Homo sapiens: one gene and its partners. The protein of the gene in region 1 purifies or fractionates together with the protein of each later gene. This does not show direct contact. Each region holds a gene or a part of one and is shown in the gene's direction. Other genes may lie near its edges. The genes, in order: NID2, TMED7, POTEI, LAMA4 and DCAF4.

Region 1 (4,916 bases):
TGATGGCAGAGCCTACACGGCCATCAGCCACATCCCACAGCCAGCAGCCCAGGCCCTCCTCCCCCTCACACCAATTGGAGGCCTGTTTGGCTGGCTCTTTGCTTTAGAAAAACCTGGCTCTGAGAACGGCTTCAGCCTCGCAGGTGAGTAGGGCCTCTGAGAAGGCCGGTAGTCAGCATTGCTTTGGCAGTGGTGCTCCTTGGGGCACTGTCTTTAGGCCTTTACGCAGTGACAGAGGAATCACTTGTTTAATGTACTAGAGCCACATGTGTGTAGTTTTCTGGCCACAGGTTGTTGGGAATGGTTTGACCTCACATCACTGATTTTTGAAAGGCAGTGATTTCGTCTAAATGTTCTCCCAGCTGTTCTGAGAAACAGGATGATTCCATTCAGAACATTTGTGTCCTCTTACCCCAATTTGTTGCAGCATATTTGTCAGGCTTTTTAAATTATGCACAGATCTGTCAAATGCAAAAATGGTACTTGGGGCACCTGGGGATGATTTTACTTCATGGGGAAGGGGTGCTCTTCTCCTCCCAGCTCCACAACCTATAATAGTATAGGCCGGTGCACCCCAGACTTGAACCTGCACACACATCACTTGGAGGTCTTGTCAAAATGTAAATTCTGGTTCAGCAGGCCTGGGGTGGGGTCCGTGATTTTGCTTTTCTACCAAGCTAGGAGGTGAGGTACCAGTGTTGCTGGAAAGGCCACCCGTTGACAACAAGGATTTAGAAGATACTTTTTGGATTCTCACCTTCCAACCTGAAAACTTGTTTGCTAGAGGTTTTATCTTTATTGCATTAAAAATAGTTTTGTGAGAAGTTCTTTCTCCATCTTTAACTGCAGAGCTCGGTAGCTGTTAATAGGTTCTTGCTTTAATCAAAATTTGAATAAAGCCCTTGGGTCAAAAGTAGATAAAAAATGGCACACCTGGATAAATTTGTATTTCAGATAAACAATTTTCTAGTATAAGTATTACCCACATATTTCATGAGACATACTTATCTGAAATTCAAACAAAACCCTGAATGTCTTAGGTGGTAGTTTATTTGTTTTTGTTTTTTTGTTGTTAGGTTTATTTGTTTGTTTGTTTTTTGCTAAGTCTAGCAACCTTAGAGAAAAGTCAAGGACGTTCCCAAGAGTATTTCTCACAGAATACAAGCTTGTTCAAAGAGAAGCTGGGTGAGGTAAGGCAGGATGAAACCATATTCTTCAATGGAAAAGTTTGGGAACTTATGGAATCAACAGCTGATAGTGCTTACTCTCAGATATCAGATAATCTCCTTAGGCACGATCTCCAACAGCAGTAGAAATTGGGAGCGGGCAGTATATACTGGTAACTGTTTAAGCAAGACCTCTTTTCATCCCTGTGCTGAATGTTTTTCATCTCCAGGTGCTGCCTTTACCCATGACATGGAAGTTACATTCTACCCGGGAGAGGAGACGGTTCGTATCACTCAAACTGCTGAGGGACTTGACCCAGAGAACTACCTGAGCATTAAGACCAACATTCAAGGCCAGGTGCCTTACGTCTCAGCAAATTTCACAGCCCACATCTCTCCCTACAAGGAGCTGTACCACTACTCCGACTCCAGTATGTATAACCAGTCTTCACATCTGTAAAATGGGGATTATGCCCATCTCACAAGATAGATACAAGGCTTAAATGACTTACATGGCATGTCCTTAGAACAGTGCATGGAACATAAAATGAGCTCTATTATGTTATTACTCTTATTGTTACCATGAAATATATCGTGTAAGTGAGCAGAATGGCTGCTATACATAAGAATATCTATATCCCTACATAGTATTTTCAAATAATAAAATCAATAGCAACATTGTCCATGGGGTGGGTAGGGATGGTATAATTATATACAGTTTTTAACCATCCTACTTTCTGCAACATGGAAAAATAGTGATTATTGGAATTTATATTTATCTCAACCTTGTTTCAGCTGATGAGTTCAGGCTGCTTTAAAAAAAAAAAAAATCACAGAAAGAGGCCAGGTGCAATGGCTCATGCCTGTAATCCCACCACTTTGGGAGGCCAAGGTGGGTGGATCACCTGAGGTCAGGAGTTCAAGACCAGCCTGGCCAACATGGTGAAAACCTGTTTCTACTAAAAATACAAAAATTAGCAGGGTGTGGTGGCACGCTCCTGCGATCCCAGCTACTTGGGAGGCTGAGGCAGGAGAATCATCTGAACCTGGGAAGTGGAGGTTGCAGTGAGCCGAGATTGTGCCATTGTACTCCAGCCTGGGCGACAAAGCAAGACTCCATCTCAAAAACAAAACCAAAAAACACAGAGATGCTATAATTTATTATAAAACTAATGCTAGATTTGGAGTCAAAAGATAAGAATTTATATCCTGGACTTGCCATTTAATATCTATAGGGAAAGGCCTCTTAATATCTGAGAATGTATTTTCTCATCTTTCACATGGAACTAAAAATGCTTTTTCTATATTATGTGATCAATGTGTGCGAAGCGTGATGTGTTCTGTGAAAGTACTACCTGCGCACAGGATGCTGCCTCCATCACAGCTGCTGTTGTGCAGCACAGCAATCCGGATTGAGTTGTGCCTTTCCTCTGACCCCTGCTGCTCCTATGCTGAGAGCTGGCAGCCTGGCAGGAGATGTAGGGAAGACAAGGGGAAGCAGAGACCTGGGCTGTGAACAAAATGGTCAGTGTCCGGATCACTGACCTGAGCTTGACTCCTAGACTCAGATGGTGAGAGACAACCCTTTCCCTTCTCTGGAATCCTTCAGATTTACTGAAGTGCGAGGTGTTGGAAGTCGTCACTTCTGTGAAATGTAGAAGATGGATTGGTTTAAAATTTAGGGTGTAGAGTCAAACCAATGTGAGTTTCAGTTCCAGCTCTACCATGTGGCAGCATTGCATCTTAGGCTACTTAACCTTTGTGAGCCTCTGATCACATGATTTAGTGCCCACCTCACCAGGCTGTTGTGAGGAATAAATGAGGCAGTATGTAGAGAGCACTGTTGGCATGGCTGGCCCTTAGTAACACTTATTCTTTGTGTATAATAACATGGACAATTGTAGTGCCTTCTCCCTCTCAGCACTGTGGCTTTGCATCCACTCAGGTTTTTGGGATTTCCTTACACATTTTTTCATATAAACTCAGGAGGTTCCCAAGGGAACACACTCCAAGAATTAGATGAAAAAAACTGCAGAAAAATCCACCTCACATGAAAATCTCTGTATTTAATATTTTTAAAAAATTACCACTGTGTTTGTTGCAGCTGTGACCTCTACAAGTTCCAGAGACTACTCTCTGACTTTTGGTGCAATCAACCAAACATGGTCCTACCGCATCCACCAGAACATCACTTACCAGGTGTGCAGGCACGCCCCCAGACACCCGTCCTTCCCCACCACCCAGCAGCTGAACGTGGACCGGGTCTTTGCCTTGTATAATGACGAAGAAAGAGTGCTTAGATTTGCTGTGACCAATCAAATTGGCCCGGTCAAAGGTAAGGTTTCCTTTTTTGTTGTTGGGTAAAAATGACATCCTTTTAAGTAGAGTTAGAATGATTCACAGAGGTTACTAAGGGTTACCTAGTGCCATGCTGTGTTATGTGCTAGGTATAAGGATGAATAGAGCAGATCCTTGCCCTTGAGTTGGAAACAGAGGCAGAAAAGAGTTTTAGGGCAGGGAACAGTGTCCCTGCCAAAGTCAGGAAATAGAGCATAGTATGTGAAGCTGGTTTATAGCAATACCCAACTGTGCGTGCCAATCAGGAATATACCTGTGAACAAGGCAGACTGGAATTAGGAGGGAGAGTGATGCTGACAAGTATTTGTTACAAGTGTGATGAGAGCAGGGCACTGTGAGTCTAGTTTGAAGATTCAGAAAAGATGTCCCCAAGAAAGTGACATTTTAGCTAAAACAGATGAGAAGAATTTCATCCAAAACTAAGGTGGAGCAAAGAGCTAGTATCTGGAAAAACCAAACATCATAGAACTTGATGTATAACCTCCCCCTCCATGATTCCCAGAACATTATACTTAATGGTGAAAGACTGGATGCTTTTCCCTGAAGCTTAGGAACAAGACAAGGATGTCTGCTGTTGCCACTTTTATTCAATTCAGTACTAGAATTTCTAGCCAGGGTGATTAGGCAAGAACACAAAATAAAAGCCATCTAAATTGGAAAAGGACAAAGTAAAATTAGTCTCAGATGACATTTTGTGTAGAAAATCTCAGGAATTCACTAAAACACTATTAGAACTAAAGAACAAGTTCGCAATGTTATAAGATATGCAAGATCAGTACACCAAATTGTATTTCTCTATAGTAGCAATGAGCAAACTAAAGATTAAGAAATTGTTTCAAAAAGAGATAAATTTTTAAAAAGAAGTGCAGTACTTGTACATTGCATCCCACAAAACATTTTTGGAAAAAAATTTAAGACCCAGTTAAATGGGAAGATGTTCCACATTCATGGATTGGAAGACTTAATACTGTTAAGATGTGAATACTTCCCAAATTGATCTATTAATTCAACATAATCCCTATCAGAATCTCAGCTGGCTCTTTGAAGAAATTGGCAAGCTGATTCTAGAATTTATATGGAAATTCAAAGAACACAGAATAGCCAAAACAATCTTGGAAAAGAATAAAGTCAGACTTGTATTTCTCAAACTCGAAATCTAGAGTAATCAAGACAGTGTGGTCCTGGCGTAAGGATACATGTAAAGATCAAAGGAACAGAAGTGGGAACCCAGAAATACTCACATTAAAAGTCAATTGCTTTTTCAACAACAGTGCCGGGAGTGGGGAGGGATAGCATTAGGAGATATACCTAATGCTAAATGACGAGTTAATGGGTGCAGCTCACCAACATGGCACATGTACACATATGTAACAAACCTGCACGTTGTAAACA
Region 2 (4,916 bases), on another chromosome or scaffold:
TTTTTACTGATGAAACTGAGGTTTAGATAGGCTAAGAACCAAGGGCATAAAACGTAGAAGTAGCTAAATCAGTAACGCAGTCCCAAGTTAAATTCTTAACCACTTTATTATACTACCTCCCAGAGACTGACTTTGATCTCAGAGAGCTTACACAGACATATATAGTCATAAAATGTTAAATGTGACAATAAAGGTACACACTAGGTATAGTGCTGGCAGGAGACAGAAGGATCATCAGGGGACATTTAGCTGAGGAGCTGATGTTAGAGGTGAGTCTGCAAGATAAGTAGCCGTTGCTCTACAAGGCGGCAGAGGAGAGAAGAAGGGGCCCCAGGCAGATATGTTCATGACAGTTCCAGCAGGCCTGAAATTAGCCTGAGCTATATTGCTAACATTTGTGCATGGCATTGAAAATACACTGAATAATAATAGTTTTGTGACTATAGTTATATTTATTAATAGTCACAAAACTATTATTATTAGCTTTAATATGAAGCTATTATAATAGCTTTGTGACTGTGAGTCCAAGGGCTTTGGGGGCAGTTTGTACCAGTTTGTCAACATTATTTATTGGTAACAATGAGATTGATGATTTGCTCCTGGTCTTCATGAGACCACACCCCCAACCCAGAGCTCTGTTGTTGAGACTAGCTGCGTAGCAGGAATATGCCTATGTGACCAGCAAAATATTTAAAAATGCAATCAGGACTCTATTTTGGGTTGCTTGGTTCCAGGGTGTTTTCTTTGCACACTTGGGTGGTTCCAGATCTGAGAGAGTATATGTCTGGCCACACACCTAACAAAGGGAAGCCGAAGGAGCCCACACCTGACCTTTTCAGATCTCTTGCTGTGAGGCAGCCTTTGGCTGTAATGTTTTATATTCTTTTCCTTTTGGGGCTCTTTTCAGTCCCAAGTTAAATTCTTAGCCACTTTATTATACTACCTCCCAGAGACTGACTCTGACCTCAGAGAGCTTACATAGACATATATAGTCGTATAATGTTATAAACTGTAGATTTATAACATAACCTACAGTAATAAACTGTAGATTTGCAAACACTGTCATTTTGATCCGTGTGATTCTTTAGCAAACCCTGTTGAACTGCACTGTCAGTGCAGATGTAAAGCAAAGACTTGTTCAGAGAATTTCTGGTAGTCTGGTATTTTAGGAACATAGAACGAGTAAGGGTGTGAATAAAAGAGGTTCTGAAGCTACCTGGGAGGAAGAACATGTGAATAGTATACCATTGTTAAGAGGTTTAGATTTGTCTGCAGGCCACAGGTAATTATCAAAAAGTTTTTAAGTGATTGCTCAATGGGGAATGAGGAAAGATGGGGAGATGGGCACCCCTTCTTCCCAGGAGACATTCGGCATCATTTTAGGAGAAGGGCAGCTACCTGCATCTAGTAGTTAGAGACCAGGTATGCTGTTTAACGTGTCACAGTGCACAGGACCATACAGCCTCCTACAACACAGAATTATTCAGTTCAAAATGGGAATAATGCGAGGTTGAGAAACCCTGAGTTCGAGGGAGAAGATATTGGGTAGTGGGAAGACCTTTTAGGAAGTTGTGGCAATAGTCCTGTCTGGATTGTGGTTTCGGAATGCGATGAATTTGAGAGGGGCAAAAAGATTGAGAGATTTGTGTGATCATATGGATAGATAGGGACAGTTAGTTTGGGATGATCCTCAGTTTCAATAGTAGGTGATTGGACAGGTTTAAAGGGATACTGTTAAGTGAGATTACTTGTTTTAAGTTTGATGGAAGAGAAGTGGGGTGATGATAAGTTCTGGTGCTATTCGGTTTGTATGTATGTGTTTGATTATTCAGAATACAATGGTCAAATACGTATAATTCAGTATAGCAAAATGAAGTTATTTTCACCTGGAGAAAAAGTTACTGACTTTTTGGTGAGGATGGGGATTGGTAAATCCCCAATTGATAAGACACTTTTATATCAAAACATTTTATCTGTATATTAACATTTACATATTTTTACAGTTTCATAAGTGCATAATTATTTTCATTAGATTATCAAAATGATATGTAACATAGTTCATTAGTCATCTTCTCTCAAGTGAGAAAAGGTCACACAGATCCTTCTTTTAAATCCAAAGTTTGACCTAGAATGTCAGGATGCTAACCAAGAGAGTTCAAGGTTGAAAATAACAATCTTGTGCTCCCCAATCACATGGTGGTTTGGGAACCCTTCATTCAACCCAATGTGTATACGTTCACTCTGTTCACCTCTCTGCACTCCCTCTTTCTTCCTACTCAGTTCTTTCTCATGTAAGGAAGCCTTTCTCTTTAATCCTTTCCCCCTTTTGTCTCTTACAATACTTATCCAGTTACCGCAGGAAAAATCTCTCCCTCCTCTGTACAACCCAAATGGCTGGAATTGTAACTGATTAAGCATAAGCCGTGGAAAGTAGTTCCACAGTTCTGTTCAGACTCATATCACCTACCTCCAGGCTTCCATTCAGTATGTTTGCCATTAAGTACTGGCTTTCTAGATAAACAGACTTGTTGTCCTTCATGTTATTTTGTTTTTGCTTTAATCACAAGAGTTTCAACAATATTTTATTTAATCAGTTACGTGTCTCTCCTCAAAACAAGGTTGTAAATGATTATATACTTTTAGAATAGCCCACTCCGTTACTCAACTTATAGTGTAGTTCAAAACAAAATGTATATCAAATTCCATATAACTGACTATAAAAGAACTTAATAAATGTAATCTATTTGTAATTTGGCAGTAAAATGAGCTTAAGTTCTATGATAGAAGTATGAATGGGGTGTAATCCTAAGGATTGGCCTACCTTGTTACTTCACTGTGTGTGTGCTTGGATGATGCTAATAGGAAAGTGGGTTAGAAAATTTTCAGAAGGAAAATATTGCAGGCAGTAAGCTTAGAGGTTAAGAATATGACTTTGGAGTTCAAGTTCTGCCTTTCCCACTTAATTTAGATGAACAGTCTTGAATAGTTCGCTTATTTAACATCAGTTTTTCAGTCTGTCAAATGGAAGGAAAAAAGTATATTGTAGGGTTGCTGGGAGAATTAAGTGATCTAATAGATCTCCATTAATTAGCACAGTTGTCTGGCTAGTTCAAAGTGAATAAAAGTTGGAGAATACTTGTTCAGTTTCTGTAAAGTTTAGTTGAAGTAAAATCTCCCAAGTTCCATCCACTGGTGAAAATTTAAAAAGATAGTAAAAGTCCTTTGCCCATCACCTTATTGCCATTTTAATAGGAAATCTGATTAAATCTGATTAATTTTTCACACTTTTCACAGTGATTTTTCTTTTTTAATCTCTTACAGGTGATTACTGGTGGTCACTATGATGTAGATTGTCGATTAGAAGATCCTGATGGTAAAGTGTTATACAAAGAGATGAAGAAACAGTATGATAGTTTTACCTTCACAGCCTCCAAAAATGGGACATACAAATTTTGCTTCAGCAATGAATTTTCTACTTTCACACATAAAACTGTATATTTTGATTTTCAAGTTGGAGAAGACCCACCTTTGTTTCCTAGTGAGAACCGAGTCAGTGCTCTTACCCAGGTAAATAAAAAAATCAGCAATATAATGTTGGTATATTTAAAAGGAGGAAAAAAGCATAATTTAATATCATGCACTAACTGATGAGCATGGAATTTTGAGACTGACAGTCTTTAAAATCTATCTTAATTCTTACATGTAGGCATTTCACAGAGAACTTCAGACTTTTGTAGTGAAAAATAATGTTGAAAGATTTTATGAACTTTTAATTGTAAAGAGAAAGAAGCATTAAAATAAGGAGGAAGATCACTAAGGTAGAAACATCAGTGGTAAAAGAAGGTTGGGAAGGCTGAGCAGTGTTCCAATCTTCTGAAGCATTTTCTTTAATCCCTGAAGGAATGTTGCTGTCATACTCAGGAGGCTGGTGTAACTGGAAGCAAAATGATGCCTAAATTAGTAGATAAATAATACCATATCATAGCCTTTATACCATTACTTAGTGTTACTCAAGCTGCTGTAACAGTAACTTGTGCTGTAACTTTAGGTGAAATATTGAAGATTAATGGTAAGTCATCTCACAAAAATAGTTACAAAAGCTAAATTCAGATTTATTTTGGAGACATAGAGAAAGCGTAAAAAATTTAAACCCAGTGAACAACTATTGCTTAGGTGATGAGGACTGTTTTATTTCTAGTTCAAATACAGCAAAATCCAAAATGCTTCAAAATCCAAAACTTTTTTTTAGCTCCAACCTGATGACACAAGTGGAAGATTGTTACATCTGATCTCATGACACATCATTGAAAATATCATATACAGTTGCCTTAAGGCTGCATGTATAAGGCATATATGAAACATAAATGAATTTCATGTCTAGACCTGGGTTCCATCACAAAGATATCTCATTATGTATATGTAGACATTCCAAAATCAGAAAAAATCTGAAATTCAAAGCACTTCTGGTCCCAAACATTTTGGATAAGGGATACTCAACCTGTATGGGCTTAGATCGTATCTAAAAGTTACTCAATTAGGCATGAAAAAGAATTATTTACCACTTATTCGTTAACATCTTAAACTGGTATTTTAGTGTTCCCAGGTTCTATTTAGTCTCTTGGCCAAAGTCATGGTGAAAGAAACAGCTTTAAGAATGTGTAAAAGCCTTAATTCATAAACCTGTTGTTAGAATTAGCAAGATATATTCAAATACTCTTAATTTTAGAAATGTTCTCTTTATTTTAAGGTCTTGTGTGAAGGACACCTTGCTTTGTAAAATGATATTTCTTTGGGGCCATTACCTTAACCTGTATCCATTCCTTCATGAATTTTAACTTGTATAAGGTGGCTTGTTCTAAAAACCTAAGTGGGTAAATATAAGAAATGAATGGTAATAAAGCAGTTAGTATCATACC
Region 3 (4,103 bases), on another chromosome or scaffold:
ATTCCAAATATTGTGAGACGCATTGTTTCAGGAAGCCCCTTGCCCTGCTAAAAGCCACCCCACTTCTCTCTAAGGAGAATGGCCCAGTCCTCTCCCTAGTTCACACAGGGGAGGTGATAGCATTGCTTTTGTGCAGATTACATAATGCAAAATTTTTTGAATCTTCGCCTTAATACTTTTTAATTTTGTTTTATTTTGAATGATCAGCCTTCGTGGCCCCCCTCTTTTGTACCCCAACTTGGGGTGTATGAAGGCTTTTGGTCTCCCTGAGAGTGGCTGGAGGCAGCCAGGGCTTACCTGTACTCTGACTTGAGGAGAGTTGGATAAAAGTGCACACCTTAAAAAAAATTGAGGAAGCACAGTATTTCAGTACAGTGGACAGCTTAGCATGTTGACAACTGAGAATAAAATGCTCAGTTCTGAACTGGACAATGTAAGACACAACGAGGAAACACCGGAAATGGAAATTCAATTACGTCATTGTAGACTGGCTGCTGCTCTACATGATTGTGACCAAAGTCAGATAGCTGAAAGAGACTTCTTTCCAGAGAACAAGACATGAACAGGTTTATTTACAGAAGACAATGAATTCTCATTTATCTCACCTAAAAGAGAACAGATTCTTTCTCAACAAGTCTAACGTAGACAGTAAAATCAACAGGCTAAAAATTAAGCTCCATGAAACAAGATAAAACTCTGAGAGAAAAGACGGGGCAGGCCGCCATCTTTCCCGTTCAGGCAACTTAGTCATTCCAGCCTGCGGGCTTTGGAGAGTACAAACCGACGAGGGACAGAAGAGATCCCACAGCACAGCATAGCTGCTTTACCAAATCATGGCCAGACTGCTTCTGTAAGCAGGCCCCTGATCCTGTTCCATCTCACTGGACAGGACCTCCCAACTGGGGCCTCCAGCTACCCCCACCAGCATTCCTTGGCCAATGGAAATGTGAAATGTTCCTGGGACAGAGCTCCCGGAGAGGGGCAGGCCCCCACCTTTGCTCTTTCGGTGACTAGCCATTCTGGCCTGCGGGCTTTGGAGAGCCCAAGCTGACAAGGGGTGGAAGAGGTACCTCAGCACAGCACAGCCACGCTACCAAAACGTGGCCAGACTCTTGTTTACGTCAGTCCCTGACCACATTTCTAGTCAGTGGGTGAAGTCTTTCAACCAGGGTCTCTGGCTACCTTGACTGCTGTTCTCTGGCCGACAGAGGTCTCAGGCCTCCCTGAGTCAGAGCTCCCAGGGGGAGGACCAGATTGTCATCTTTGCTGTTGGGGCGACCCAGGCATTTCAGCCTTAGGGCTTCAGAGTGTCTGAGGCGGACCAGGGGCTGAAGTGAACCCCCAGCACAGCACAGCTGCTCTATAAAAACGTGGCCAGACTTTTCTTTTTGAAGCAAGTCCCTGTTCTTGTTCGTCCTGACTAGGTAAGACTTCTCAACTTGCCTCCAGCCACATCTTATAGGTGTGTTCAGATTGGCAACAGGTTCGTACCTCAGTGGTACAGAGCTTCCAGAGGAAGGGGCAGACTATCATCTTCCCTGGAAAATACAAGGCAATTAGGGACTGGAGGGGACCCCCAGCATACCACAGCAGCCCTACAGAAAAGTGGCCAGGCTCTCTACTTGATGGGCAGATCCTCCTGGCCTGGGTCTCTAGCCAGCCCACCACTGGAGCTATCAAGCCAGTAGCAACTCTGCAGTTCCTGGGACAGAGCTTCCAGGAGCAAATGAAATCCTTTCTGCCACTGCCTCTGCAGTGGAACTGCCCTTGCTGCCCTCAGAAGATGCAAGGGAGCAAAGACCCTAAGTGCCCTATCAACACCTCCAATAAGCTGCAGTTGACCCAAAGAACAAGCCAGTCCATCTCCCACGGGTACCACACACCCTCCACTACTCATCACCAGACAGGGAACCCTGGCTTGGGCCCACAGCACAGACCCTCCATCCTGGGCTGATTACACTAAGTGATTGCTAACTCACATGTCTCTGGGATGGAGCACCCAGGAAACAAGCAAAGTGGTGGAGCAGCAAGTCAGGTGATGTGGAGCCCAGAGGTCAGGGATGGCTGTCTCTCTAGGGTCCACTTGCCCTTGTGAGACACTTTATCCCAGCACTTTAGGAATACTGAGGTCATACCAGCCACATCTTATATGCAAGATTGCCCAGCAGAGATCAGGTCCGAGAGTTCCCTTTTTAAAAAAAGGAGACTTGCTTAATAAAAGAAGTCTAGCCACGTTTGTGTAGAGCGGCTGTGCTGTGCTGGGGGTTCACTTTTGAGAGAGTTCTCCTCTGAGACCTGATCTCTGGAGGCTGGGCAATCTTGCACTTGAGATGGGGCTGGTCTGATCTCAGCACTCCTTAGTCTGCTCGCCTCTCCCATGGCCCCAGCCTGGCCACACCTGCTTACGGGGCACTCTTAGATGCCCACACCATAGCTTCCGTGCTAGTGGACTGTACCATATCAGTGGAGAGCTGCAGCAAGGTGGCCCCTAGAGCCACGCACCAGCCTGCACATTGCCTCTCCATACGGCAGCCCTTTATTTGGAAACTTCCTAAATCACTTTGCTGTGTGTGTTTACACGGGTGGGTTTTGCTTTACTTGCCCTGAGAGCACACAGGAGTGCAGCACACACCCCAACCCACATCAACTGCCATTAAAGAAAAGAAATTTCAGCCCAGAATTTCATGTCCAGCAAAATTAAGCATCATAAGTGAAGGAGAAATAAGATCCTTTTCAGACAAGCAAGTGCTGAGGGAATTTGGTATCACCAGATCTACCTTACGAGAGCTCCTGAAGGAAGCACTAAATATGGAAAGAAAAGATCATCACCTGCTACTACAAAAACACACTGAAGTACACAGTCCAATGATGCTAAAAAGCAAGCACATATGTAAGTCTGCAAAATAACCAGCTGACAGCATGACGACAGGATAAAATCCACACATACCATTACTAACCTTAAATGTAAATGGGCTAAATGCTCCCATTGAAAGACACGGGGCAAGCTGGGTAAAGAACCAAGACCCACTGGAGTATGCCGTCTTCAAGCAACCCATCTCACGTGCAGTGCCATACATAGGCTCAAAATAAAGGAATGGAGAAAAATATTTCAAGCAAATGGAAAACAGAAAAAAGGTGTTGCACTCCCAGTTTCTGACAAAACAGACTCTACCAATAAAGATAAAAAAAGAGAAGGACATTACAAAGGTGGTCCTGACCTTTGATAAATCTCATTATTGCTTGATACCAACCTGGGCTATTTGTATTGCCCAAACCAATAGGATAATTTGCTGAGGTTGTGGAGCTTCTCCCCTTCACAGAGTCCCTGATCTCCGAAAATTTGGTTGAGATGTAAGGTTGATTTTGCTGTACAACTCCTTTTTTGAAGTTTTACTCATTTCCAACAAGGAAGGCAAGTTTTCCTGCTTCCATTGACAAAGGAGAGCAGGCACCTCCTTTCCTGAGTTTCAGCTTGCTTCTGACAGGGAAGGTGAGTGTAAGTTTTTCCAGCTTCTAAGATGGCAGAGAATGATCACCCAGTCTGAGCCTTATTTCCAGGTAAGTAGCTGAATTAGAGTTTTGTCTTAAAATTTTTCCTTAATGACTAAAATTTAAGATTACCCACCAGCTGCTTTTAATTCCTCCTTACCATTAGAACACTCAGTTAATCATATGAATTGTGCATTTGTTTGTTTTGCTTAACTCTTTTTGTTTATGTTTGGGGTTTTATTGTTGTTTCACTTTTCTCCCATCTCTTCCTGACTTGGTCAAATCCAAAGGAATGTTCCAAATTGTGGGGAGCAAGGCATCTGAATTGGCTAAAACTCCTGGGGCTGCAAAACAAAAACAAAAACAAAACAAAACAAAAAAACAACAAAAAAAAAAACCACAAAAAACAAAAAAAAATCCAGTTGGAAATTTTTTAAAACTTTTTTTTAATTTTTAAATTTTATTATTATACTTTAAGTTTTAGGGTACATGTGCACAATGTGCAGGTTTGTTACATATGTATACATGTGCCATGTTGGTGTGCTGCACCCATTAACTCGTCATTTAACATGAGGTATATCTCCTAATGCTATCCCTCCCTGCTCCCCCACCCC
Region 4 (4,916 bases), on another chromosome or scaffold:
GAGCACTTTTTTTTTCAACTATAGAGTCTCCTTATCCTATTTTCTCTTTATAATGATATTCTAGGGTGTGTCCTCCACGTGATGCTACAGTCTATCTTAAAAGCTGTTGATTTAGATTAATAAGTAGGAAATTCATAACAGTATTACCTATGGAATACCTGGTCTATGTTATGGAATTTATTATAACATTGCTAAAAAGTAAAGAATTCCATTCCCTAGTGTTCCAGGGTTCTCTGATTTAACCAGAGGAAGTCTTTTCTTTTAACATGATAAAATAAAAATAACAGAAACTTTGCCATTTGAACTTTTTTTTTTTTTTTTTTTGAGACAGAGTCTCCCTCTGTCACCCAGGCTGGAGTACAGTGGTGCTATCTTGGCTCGCTGCAACCTCTGCCTCCCGGGTTCAAGCAATTCTCCTGCATCAGCCTCCCGAGTAGCTGGGACTACAAGCGTGTGCCACCATGCCTGGCTAATTTTTTGTATTTTTAGTAGAGACGGGTTTCACCGTGTTAGCCAGGATGGTCTCAATCTCCTGACCTTGTGATCTGCCTGCCTCGGCCTCCCAAAGTGCTGGGATTACAGGCATGAGCCACTGCACCTGGCCATTTGAACTATTTTTAAGGGCACAGTTCAGTGGCATTGACTATATTCACATTGTTATAAAACCATCACCATCAATCTCCAGAACTTTTTCATTTTCCCAAACTGAAACCCATTAAATGATAACTTCCGATTAACTCCTTCCTCCAGCCCCTGGCAACAACAATTCTACTTTGTCTCTATGAATTTAACTACTCTAAATACTCCATATACATAATCATGCAGTACTTATCCTTTTGTGCCTAGCTTATTTCATTTGGCATAATGTCTTTGAGGCTCACCCATGTTGTAGCATGTGTCAGAATTGCATTCCTTTTTAAAACTGAATAATACTCTGTTTATATGTACACTATGTTTTGTCCATTCATTTTGTTGATGGACATTTGGGTCGTTTCTACCTTTTGGCTACTGTGAGTAATGCTGCTATGAATATTGCTGTACAAGCCTCTGTTTGAGTTCTTGCTTTCAGTTTTTTGGGAGTGTATACCTAGAAGTGGAATTGCTGGATCATATGGTACAGAGAAAGTTTTAAGACTTGGAGTCTTATAGGGGCCAGGTAAAAAAGAATTGAGTGAATCTAGCTCGGTAAAGAAACGCATCCTGTGAGTGGTGGGCCTCGATAACAGGAAATGGAAGAATCCCTCTTCCAGAGTGGCAGCCACCTCTCAGCATTGCCAGGTCTTCTGGTTTTGTTTTGTTTTGTTGTGTCTTTTTCAAAAGAAGACAGAATTTGGATTCATAAGTGAAATTGCTGACTCAAATTTTTTTTAATGCCCTGTAGGCTGAGTACATCTGAGGGCCAGATTCAGCCTAAAGATCATTTATTTGCAGCCTCTGCTTTACAATATTTTGAAGTTCACCTTTCGTTACAGGCAGAATATGGGCTTACAACCAGACAGATGCGCTGTGAATCCAGCTCCACAACTTTCTAGCTGTTTGACTTTGGGCAAATTGGACCATCTTTTAGATACTCAGTTCCTTTGATTGTAAAATAAATAGAAATACACCTGCCTTGCAAAATTCTTGTGAAATTTAAATGAAATAATATATGTAAGCTGCCCAACACAAAGTTAGCCCTCATTTCTCTCAGTCTGTCCCTCCTTCCTTTCCCTCATTTTTCCACTCTCTGCCTCTGTCTATCTTCAGGTAAAGCTCTACACTATCTTGTTAAAAGTATTTTGTTATCAAACTCTTTACTTATTCCATAAATTCGAGTACTTTTAACTTTTGCTTAAAATTTGCTGATTATCCAACATTGGAGAAGAAGGCTGTCATTTAGTTTTTATAATCATTGTGTCTTTTATGGTTCTTTAAACAGCCTTTCCCCAGCAATAGGAGGATCTGAGCAGTTAAGAGAAATGAATGCTAAATCCCTAGAAAAGCTAAAGAAAAAAGCCAACAGCAGCTGGGCACGGTGGCTCACGCCTGTAATCCCAACACTTTGGGAGGCCAAGATGGGTGGATCACAAAGTCAGGAGTTCAAGACCAGCCTGGCCAAGATGGTGAGACCCCGCCTCTACTAAAAATACAAAAAAATTAGCTGGACATGGTGGCAGGTGCCTGTAATCCCAGCTACTTGGGAGGCTGAAGCAGAGAATTCCTTGAACTCGGGAGGCGGAGGTTGCAGTGAGCGGAGATTGTGCCATTGCACTCCAGCCTGGGCGACAGAGCGAGACTCTATCTCAAAAAAAAAAAAAAAAAAGCAGCTTTGATATGACAAGGATAATACCTTTTTTCCTCTCATAATTAAATACTAAATCTGACTTGTCACAGTTTCTTGAATTAAAATGCCAAAAACACTCCCCTACTTTAGAGTTTTTTCTGGCTTATAGTAACCACATAAATATAATGATGGCCAGACATAATTTTGAGAACTTTGATTGGTTAAAAGCCATTAAAACCAGATTGCTAGTATATGCTTTGAGTCCAAACCTTAGCATTTCCAAACAATCATTTTTTTCTAAAATAAGTAAACCTAGTCTATTGATGTATAGTGACCATACAGAAGAATATTTAAATACCTACTCATATTTGCAAAAGAGCAGCATTCTTTTTTCAACTGTTTTTCTTTTTGGCTCTTGGTGTGGTAAAGTTAAATTCTGGGAAATGGTTTACTAAAGGGAAGTTTAACCACAGATGTTTGTAATTCCAACTTAAGTTTCCCATCAAAGTCTTAATGAAATTCAGCTGCCAGCAGTTCGGCTCTGAATCTGAGTCTTTTTATCATGAGAAACTTGGGGGAAACAACATTCTGAAGCTGAATGGTAATGGGAAAATTTCCATATTCAGCCCAAATCCTCTCCATAAAGAAAAAAATACATAAACAAATTCTGTTAAAAGCGGGAGGAGAGACGGGTGAATATAATTTGAGTAATATGCAAAATGACCTTCTTTTCACTCCCAGGACTTTCTTAGTTTTTATGTTGTGTTTTGGTGGAGGCTAGAGATCCGTGTTTACCTAAATGGAGTGAAGTATACACATTTTTTACTTCATGAGAACTGATGAGTTAGAGAAATCCCGTAACATTAACAGCTGCATTAGCACAAGTCTTTGCAGAGTAGACCAGTCATCCAGGCTGTACTCTACAGCTAAAAGGGCCCCTGAGCATGATGAAGACTTTGCATATTAATATTTATTTTGAAATTATGCCATTTTGGAGTGGCATGATTGCTTCAAAGGAAATCAAGGACTCTAGGAATCAAAAGTACCTTCACTAAAACTTCCCTCACACACACAACTATTACATGGAACACTGTTGTCTATGTACAAAGTGAAATGCAACATGGCATGCTGAACCAAGCAGCTCTAGAAAGCCAAATGTCAGTCCAAAGAAACACATAACATAGACACCAGCCAAAGGGAAGAGAAATGTCTAGTAAGCCTCAGGCCCTGGGATGCTAGGACTATAGAACCCTCTAGAATCACAACACAGAGCCACAGCACAAATTCGGGTTCTGAAAACCCTGGCAAGCCTCTTCTTCCACAGCAGAGGTAGTCCAGGATGCCTTTCAAACTTCATGGCTACATGTGTGTGTTTCCCTTTGATGAACAGTGATACAATTTGACAAGCTGAAGGTGTTACCTAAGTGTTACCTCTTTTCCTGCTATCTGTCCTGAGTCCTAGGTGGTTCTGTCAACCCCCAGGTCACAGATGAGGTGTTAAATGCCTGCTATTTGGAGATTAAATGGTCTGAATATCTGGAGATGGGCTGCGGTTTAATTGTAGTACATGAATAATTGCCTCATTTTATATTGTTCCTTTGAAATTGTTGTCTGCCACCATTAATGCCAATAGACACCCTGAAATTCCATTCATAAGAGACCTGAAGCTTCTCCTGCAGCACAGAATTCAGCATAAAGGAGACCTGTTTGAAAGCAGAGTCAGTGGGTGGTTATTATTGGTTACATAAATCTATCATACCTTGCAATATGAGCCATGAAATCAAAGGAATCATAGAATGTCAGACTTAGGAAGTTTAGAGATTCAACTCTCTCATTTTGTACGTGAGAAGAGAGGGGAGGTGTGGGTGCTTGACCCCGGGACACAATGCCCATTAGCAGTAGTACACGTGTCACAGGGTAAACCCCCAAATTGGAGTTCAGCCTGGGAGGCCATGTGGGTTCTTGGCTTCACACAGGGAGGAACTCAAGAACCAGCCGACAGAGTAAAATGAAAGCAAGTTTATTAAGAAAGTAAAGGAATAAAAGGGTGCGTACTCTATAGACAAGCAGTCCTGAGGGCTGCTGGTTGTCTGTGTTTATGGTTATTTCTTGATCATATGCTACACAAGGGATGGATTATTTATGAGTTTTCCAGGAAAGGGATGGGGAAGTCTCAGAACCGTGAGTTTCTCCACCTTTCAGGCCTTATAGGGTAACTTCCAGACATTTCATGGCATTTGTAAACTGTCACGGTGCTGGTGGGAGTTTCTTTTGGTATGCTAATGTATTATAATTAGCATGTAATGAGCAGTGACAGAGACCAGAGGTGGCTTTTATTACCATCTTGGTTTTGGCGTGGTTTGGCCAGCTTCTTTACTGCGGGGTCTTTGTGACCTGTTACCTTGTGAAACCAGTCCTGCTGGTTCTCACTTTTTGCCTTATGTTCTTTTCAATTGTTTTAATGGACTGAATCATCCTAGCTTTATTTTGTTTATTTATTTATTTTTGAGGCAGAGCTCTGTTGCCCAGGCTGGGGTGCAGTGGTGCAATCTTGGCTCACTGCCACATCCGCCTCCCAGGTTCAAGTGATTCTCCTGCCTCAGCCTCCTGAATAGCAGGGATTACAGGCACCCGCCACCATGCCCAGCTAATT
Region 5 (4,916 bases), about 21 Mb from region 1:
CCTTTACTACATCCTTCAGCCTATAATTCCCTCAGAAGCTACTTGTGGATTTACAAATCAAGTGTTTTAGCCGCAGCTCTATCCCAGTGTTACTGAACTAATCACCTCTGTCCCCCAAACCCCAGTTTCTCTGTCTGTAAGATTGTGTAGTCAAGTAAAATTTAAACTCTTTGTGCTACTGAATCCAATAAAGAATGAAATTCACCTAGCCTTGTAACTGCTGTTGTGCTGACAAATGAGCCCAGCTGGTAAAATTCTTATTGGCAGAGATTTCTATTTTTCCTTTTAATCTGGAAAATTCCACAAGACCTCACAAAATGCGCGAGTGAGAAGATAAGAAGAGGGAATCACTGTGACATCTGTCCTCTTTTAAAGAAAGAAAAAAGAATGAAAAACCAAAACCTTGCCCTATTTTGTTGTATTTGCAAGAGGGGATCAGTGCTTCTCAAGTAATCAGAAAGGTCAGAGATCAGAGGTGAAGGCTGCAGAACTGCCCGAATGGACTCCCTGCCCCCGTCAGAATGGCTGGAACTCAAGTCCTGGGCTGCAAGTTAACACAGCTGTGTGTCAACAGGTCTGACTCCCGGGCAGCACAGCCCGCTCACGATTCCGGCCACGGTGATGACGAGTCTCCGTCAACCTCGTCTGGCACAGCTGGGACCTCCTCTGTGCCAGGTAAGGCCACTTGCGGGGTGGGAATCCTGGCCCTTGCACACAGGGAAGGCTGAGACCCGTTCCTGGCTTGGAAGGAATTCCAGGAGCAAATTGAAACACTCAGGGAAGGAGCTGGGTGCGTCAGGAATGGTGGTCATGAGGCAAACCGCCTCCCCCAGGACTGAGCACAGTCCAGGATGTTGCCTGACAAGGCAGCTCATCCCCGCCCTCAGAAAAGACAGGCAGCCACGAGGTGGGGGGACAGGCCACTGGGCGCCCAACTCAGGTGGTCAGTTCACAGTGGTTGAAATTGGTGCATTTAATTTTTTTGTCTAAAGAGCTACCTGGGTTTTACTTTGACCCTGAAAAGAAACGCTACTTCCGCTTGCTCCCTGGACATAACAACTGCAACCCCCTGACGAAAGAGAGCATCCGGCAGAAGGAGATGGAGAGCAAGAGACTGCGGCTGCTCCAGGAAGAAGACAGACGGAAAAAGGTGGGCTCCTCACCCCTTCGCCCCCTGTCCTCTCCGCTCCTGCCAGCACCTGTCCATCCACTGTTGAAAAGGGTGCCAATTAGATGCCCCTGCGACACTTAGCAGAGGCACTTCAGGGGGTGTGGCCCTAGCTTTTCCCTGACAGGAAGAAGACAAGAATAAGAACAGCCAAGAGCCCCCTTCTTCCATCCCCGTTTTCTTGTTCGATAAGTTGTTTTTTTTTTTTTTTTTGAGGCGGAATCTCACTCTGTTGCCCAGGCTGGAGTACAGTGGCATGATCTCAGCTCAGTGCAACCTCCACCTCCCAGATTCAAGCAATTCTCCTGCCTCAGCCTCCTGAGTAGCTGGGACTACAGGCACGTGCCACCATGCCCAGCTAATTTTTTTATTTTTAGTAGAGACAGGGTTTCACCATGTTGGCCAGGTTGGTCTTGAACTCCTGACTTCAAGTGATCTGCCTGCCTCAGCCTCCCAAAGTGCTGGGATTACAGGCGTGAGCCACCACACCCAGCCTTCTTCAGCAGTTCTAACATTTTGTCATTCCTGAAGGAATCTTGGGAGGCAGTGTGATATAATTTTAGTAACTGTTTTTTGGGGTTTTTTTGAGACAGGGTCCCACTCTGTTGCCCAGGCTGGAGTGCAGTGGCGCCATCTCGGCTCACTGCAACCTCTGCCTCCCAGGTTCAAGTGATCCTCCTGCCTCAGCCTCCCAAGTAGCTGGGATTACAGGAACCTGCCACCATGCCCAGCTAATTTTTGTATTTTTTTTATAGAGATGGAGTTTCACCATGTTGGCCAGGCTGGTCTCGAACTCCTGGCCTCAAGTAATCCGCCCACCTTGGCCTCCCAAAGTGTGGGATTAGAGGTGTGAGCCACCATGCCCATCCCAGCTGTCTATTTTAAATAGAAGACCAGGATGCATGGTTTGGAATACAGGCCATCTTGTCTGTTTGCAATACAGACCAACAGGTCTAGACGCTAACATATTTTGTTGTCAAGGTAGGCAATGGAATGTAAAGTTCCAGCCCTGGGTCACCACGGGTGGAATGGAGAGTGGTGCAGACCTGTTTGCAGTCCCATTGCTGCACTCACGCACCTGGTGGCTTCGTCCCCCCGGGTGTATGTGGATGGGGAGCGTGGGCAGAGTTGACGAGCAGACTTTCCCACTCACACTTTCTTCTGCTGGGCCTTTCCTCTTGCCGAGGAAGGGAGACTTGGAAAGGACACCGTCAGATTTTTATGCATATAATTTCTGCCAATTTAGTGCCTGTTTCCTTCATTACATCCTATGGAACTAAAAACATTCTCCATCATCCCCTAACAAATAAATCTTCATTGAATTGTTCTCTTTTTTGTAATAAATATAGATTGCCAGGATGGGATTTAATGCATCTTCCATGCTACGAAAAAGCCAGCTGGGTTTTCTCAACGTCACCAATTACTGCCAGTAAGACAATGCCTCTTTGTTATGTTTTCTTCATGAATGTTCTTTTCCTGTTTCTTATTTTCATGGTATAAGAATCCAGTCTGGATAGACCATGTGGCTACCCCGTGAAGCACCTGCACAGTTGAGGGGCTCCAGTTCACACCCTGCCTTCTGCTGCTTAAACCCACCCTGAGAAAGCTGTTCTCTCTAGAGCGAAGGCGGGGGACTCTTGCAGGAGGATAGGGAGAGAGGATGGGGACGTAGGCAGAGATGTCTATTCTCTGTTACTCGTAAGTCATTCTAGTAGAAGCTCCTACAACTTCATTCCCATGACATTTCTGCATCCTTCTTTCCCTTCTAATGAGTTGTCACCAACAATGGGGCATTAAGTGGATGTGTGTGTACTAAACCTTATCAAAGTACTTATGATGGCTGATACAATTCTAACTAAAACCCTGTGAAATAGGCCGATACTTTCCCCCATTTCCTGAAGAAGAGACTGAGGCTCAGAGTGGAGTGATTTGCTCAAGGTAAAGCTAGAAGTGGGGAACTGTCTGACTCCAACACCTGAGCGCCCAGCGCTGCGTCTCCTGCCCCCACTGTACATGCTCAAGTGAAGAACCTGCATTTGAGGCAGCTTCCTGGGGCACAGCCCTCGGACCTTGGAGCAGGGCCCCTTCAGGGAAGGCCAGAAACACCGTAGGTATCAGGCAGGGCAGGCCCCTCCTGTTTTCCTCCTTCTGAGACAGAAAGTTAAAAATCTAGTTAGATCTGTTCCTCACCCTGCGAAACAAGAGGCGGCCGTATCCTGGGGCTCTTCCCGGCAGCCGTATCCTGGGGCTCTTCCCAGCAGCGGAGTGCCCTCCAGACCATTGTTTCATCTCCCGCACTTTCGTCATCTCAGGGGAAGGAGCTGTACTGAATGATGCAGACACAACTCCCTCTAACTCCCACTCTTTGACTCTGCAAATGGGCCACCCACTTCTTCATTTTCATCTTCCTGAGCGTTCTGTGGGGAAACTCAAATTCGGATAATCTGGGATCTTGCTCAGCTCCATTGCTGAGAAGTACTGTGGAGCAGGCTGACGAGGAGAGATGGGCGTCAGCGGGGCAGGGAAGGCCAGAGACCCCCGAATCTTCTTCATGGATGTCAGCTTCAGCATCCATGCCCCCACCCTCTGTTTCTGCAGTTTAGCCCACGAGCTGCGTCTCAGCTGCATGGAGAGGAAAAAGGTCCAGATTCGAAGCATGGATCCCTCCGCCTTGGCAAGCGACCGATTTAACCTCATACTGGTGAGTGGGAGGGGGACACCTGCCTAGGGTGTGGCTGCCACCCTCTGGACACTTTGTGGCTTAGCGTTGCCAGTCATCAAACCTGGCTCTGGAGAAGCCAACTGCAATGAAAGTAGGTGGCATCTTCTTGGTTGTACGATTTTAACCTGCCTGCTGGCTACCCGCTGGGAGACGCTGAGCTGGCAGGCAGGCTGTGGGGCGACCATCATCACCCCCCACTTCAGCTCCGTCGTTTAACGTCAGAGTCTGGACCCAGCCACACCTTGACTACTGAACTTTACACAATAACTTCTCCTTGGCTGTGTTGTATATGCAATTAAAAAGGCTCACAGTGGACCTGGGGACATCTGCTTCTTCCTGAACTGGGGCAGGACTTGGTGGCTAAACCTGCAGCCCAGTGTGCCTTTGGTCACTAGAGGGTAGGACTCCTTGCTTGCCGCCCCTGGCTTCAGTGGCACCTCCCATCAACACACCTCCATTACATCATTTGCAGGGGGTGAAAGGCCTTCTCTGGTTTGGGTTGGACCCAAGCTGGAAGCCAAGGTCAGCCGCTTAAACCCAGGGGCCAGGGAAAGGTTGGCAGAGAGCTAGAAGGACCACTGCAAACAAAGGTCCCTGACCTTTCGATGGACCACGTAAGAGCAGGGCCTGCCCGGCAAGCCCTATCCTTCCTGGAGGCTGAGGGAAAGCCAGGGAGAGTGAGAGGAGGATACAGAGGCAGGAGCATCTGGACTCGGTCATCTGCTGGTGGGACTGGAGGCCGATGCTAGAGATTGACCCTGGAGGTTGATACTGCATCCTCCTGCCCCAGGAGACCGCCACAGCAGGGCCCTTCCATGTAAGGGGTGTTGGGGACCGGGCCCACATTCTCCCATGTGGCTTTTCTCTCCATGTGTGCTTGGGGGTATGGTTTGACTGAATGAGTAGAATCGTCTCTTGTGGTTGGTTCCCCTCAGCAGCCCCTTCCCTGGGGTAAAGTGGGTGGGGACGGTGGGGGTCATTGGTGTGTGGGGTCTGGTGATGCACAGGCCACTGTTCACAAGCCTG

Evidence for each region.
Region 2: the proteins of NID2 (region 1) and TMED7 purify together in Homo sapiens (affinity purification with mass spectrometry; one large-scale study listed by BioGRID and IntAct). This does not show direct contact.
Region 3: the proteins of NID2 (region 1) and POTEI purify together in Homo sapiens (affinity purification with mass spectrometry; one large-scale study listed by BioGRID and IntAct). This does not show direct contact.
Region 4: the proteins of NID2 (region 1) and LAMA4 purify together in Homo sapiens (affinity purification with mass spectrometry; one large-scale study listed by BioGRID and IntAct). This does not show direct contact.
Region 5: the proteins of NID2 (region 1) and DCAF4 purify together in Homo sapiens (co-immunoprecipitation; one large-scale study listed by IntAct). This does not show direct contact.

What each region holds. Positions count from the first base shown.
Region 1 is NC_000014.9:52,037,332-52,042,247, reverse strand, and holds part of NID2 (nidogen-2 precursor), read left to right. Parts: coding exon 1-143; intron 144-1,396; coding exon 1,397-1,597; intron 1,598-3,270; coding exon 3,271-3,501; intron 3,502-4,916.
Region 2 is NC_000005.10:115,619,086-115,624,001, reverse strand, and holds part of TMED7 (transmembrane emp24 domain-containing protein 7 precursor), read left to right. Parts: intron 1-3,321; coding exon 3,322-3,567; intron 3,568-3,582; exon of another isoform or gene 3,583-3,934; intron 3,935-4,802; exon of another isoform or gene 4,803-4,863; intron 4,864-4,916. Other genes in the region: TMED7-TICAM2 (TRAM adaptor with GOLD domain isoform 1 precursor), read left to right, coding at 3,322-3,567. UniProt on the Homo sapiens protein: Potential role in vesicular protein trafficking, mainly in the early secretory pathway. Appears to play a role in the biosynthesis of secreted cargo including processing and post-translational modifications.
Region 3 is NC_000002.12:130,458,466-130,462,568, reverse strand, and holds the end of POTEI (POTE ankyrin domain family member I), read left to right. Parts: 3' UTR 1-3,114; downstream 3,115-4,103.
Region 4 is NC_000006.12:112,243,907-112,248,822, reverse strand, and holds part of LAMA4 (laminin subunit alpha-4 isoform 1 precursor), read left to right. Parts: intron 1-4,916. UniProt on the Homo sapiens protein: Binding to cells via a high affinity receptor, laminin is thought to mediate the attachment, migration and organization of cells into tissues during embryonic development by interacting with other extracellular matrix components.
Region 5 is NC_000014.9:72,939,228-72,944,143, forward strand, and holds part of DCAF4 (DDB1- and CUL4-associated factor 4), read left to right. Parts: intron 1-574; coding exon 575-675; intron 676-992; coding exon 993-1,150; intron 1,151-2,517; coding exon 2,518-2,597; intron 2,598-3,766; coding exon 3,767-3,869; intron 3,870-4,916. UniProt on the Homo sapiens protein: May function as a substrate receptor for CUL4-DDB1 E3 ubiquitin-protein ligase complex.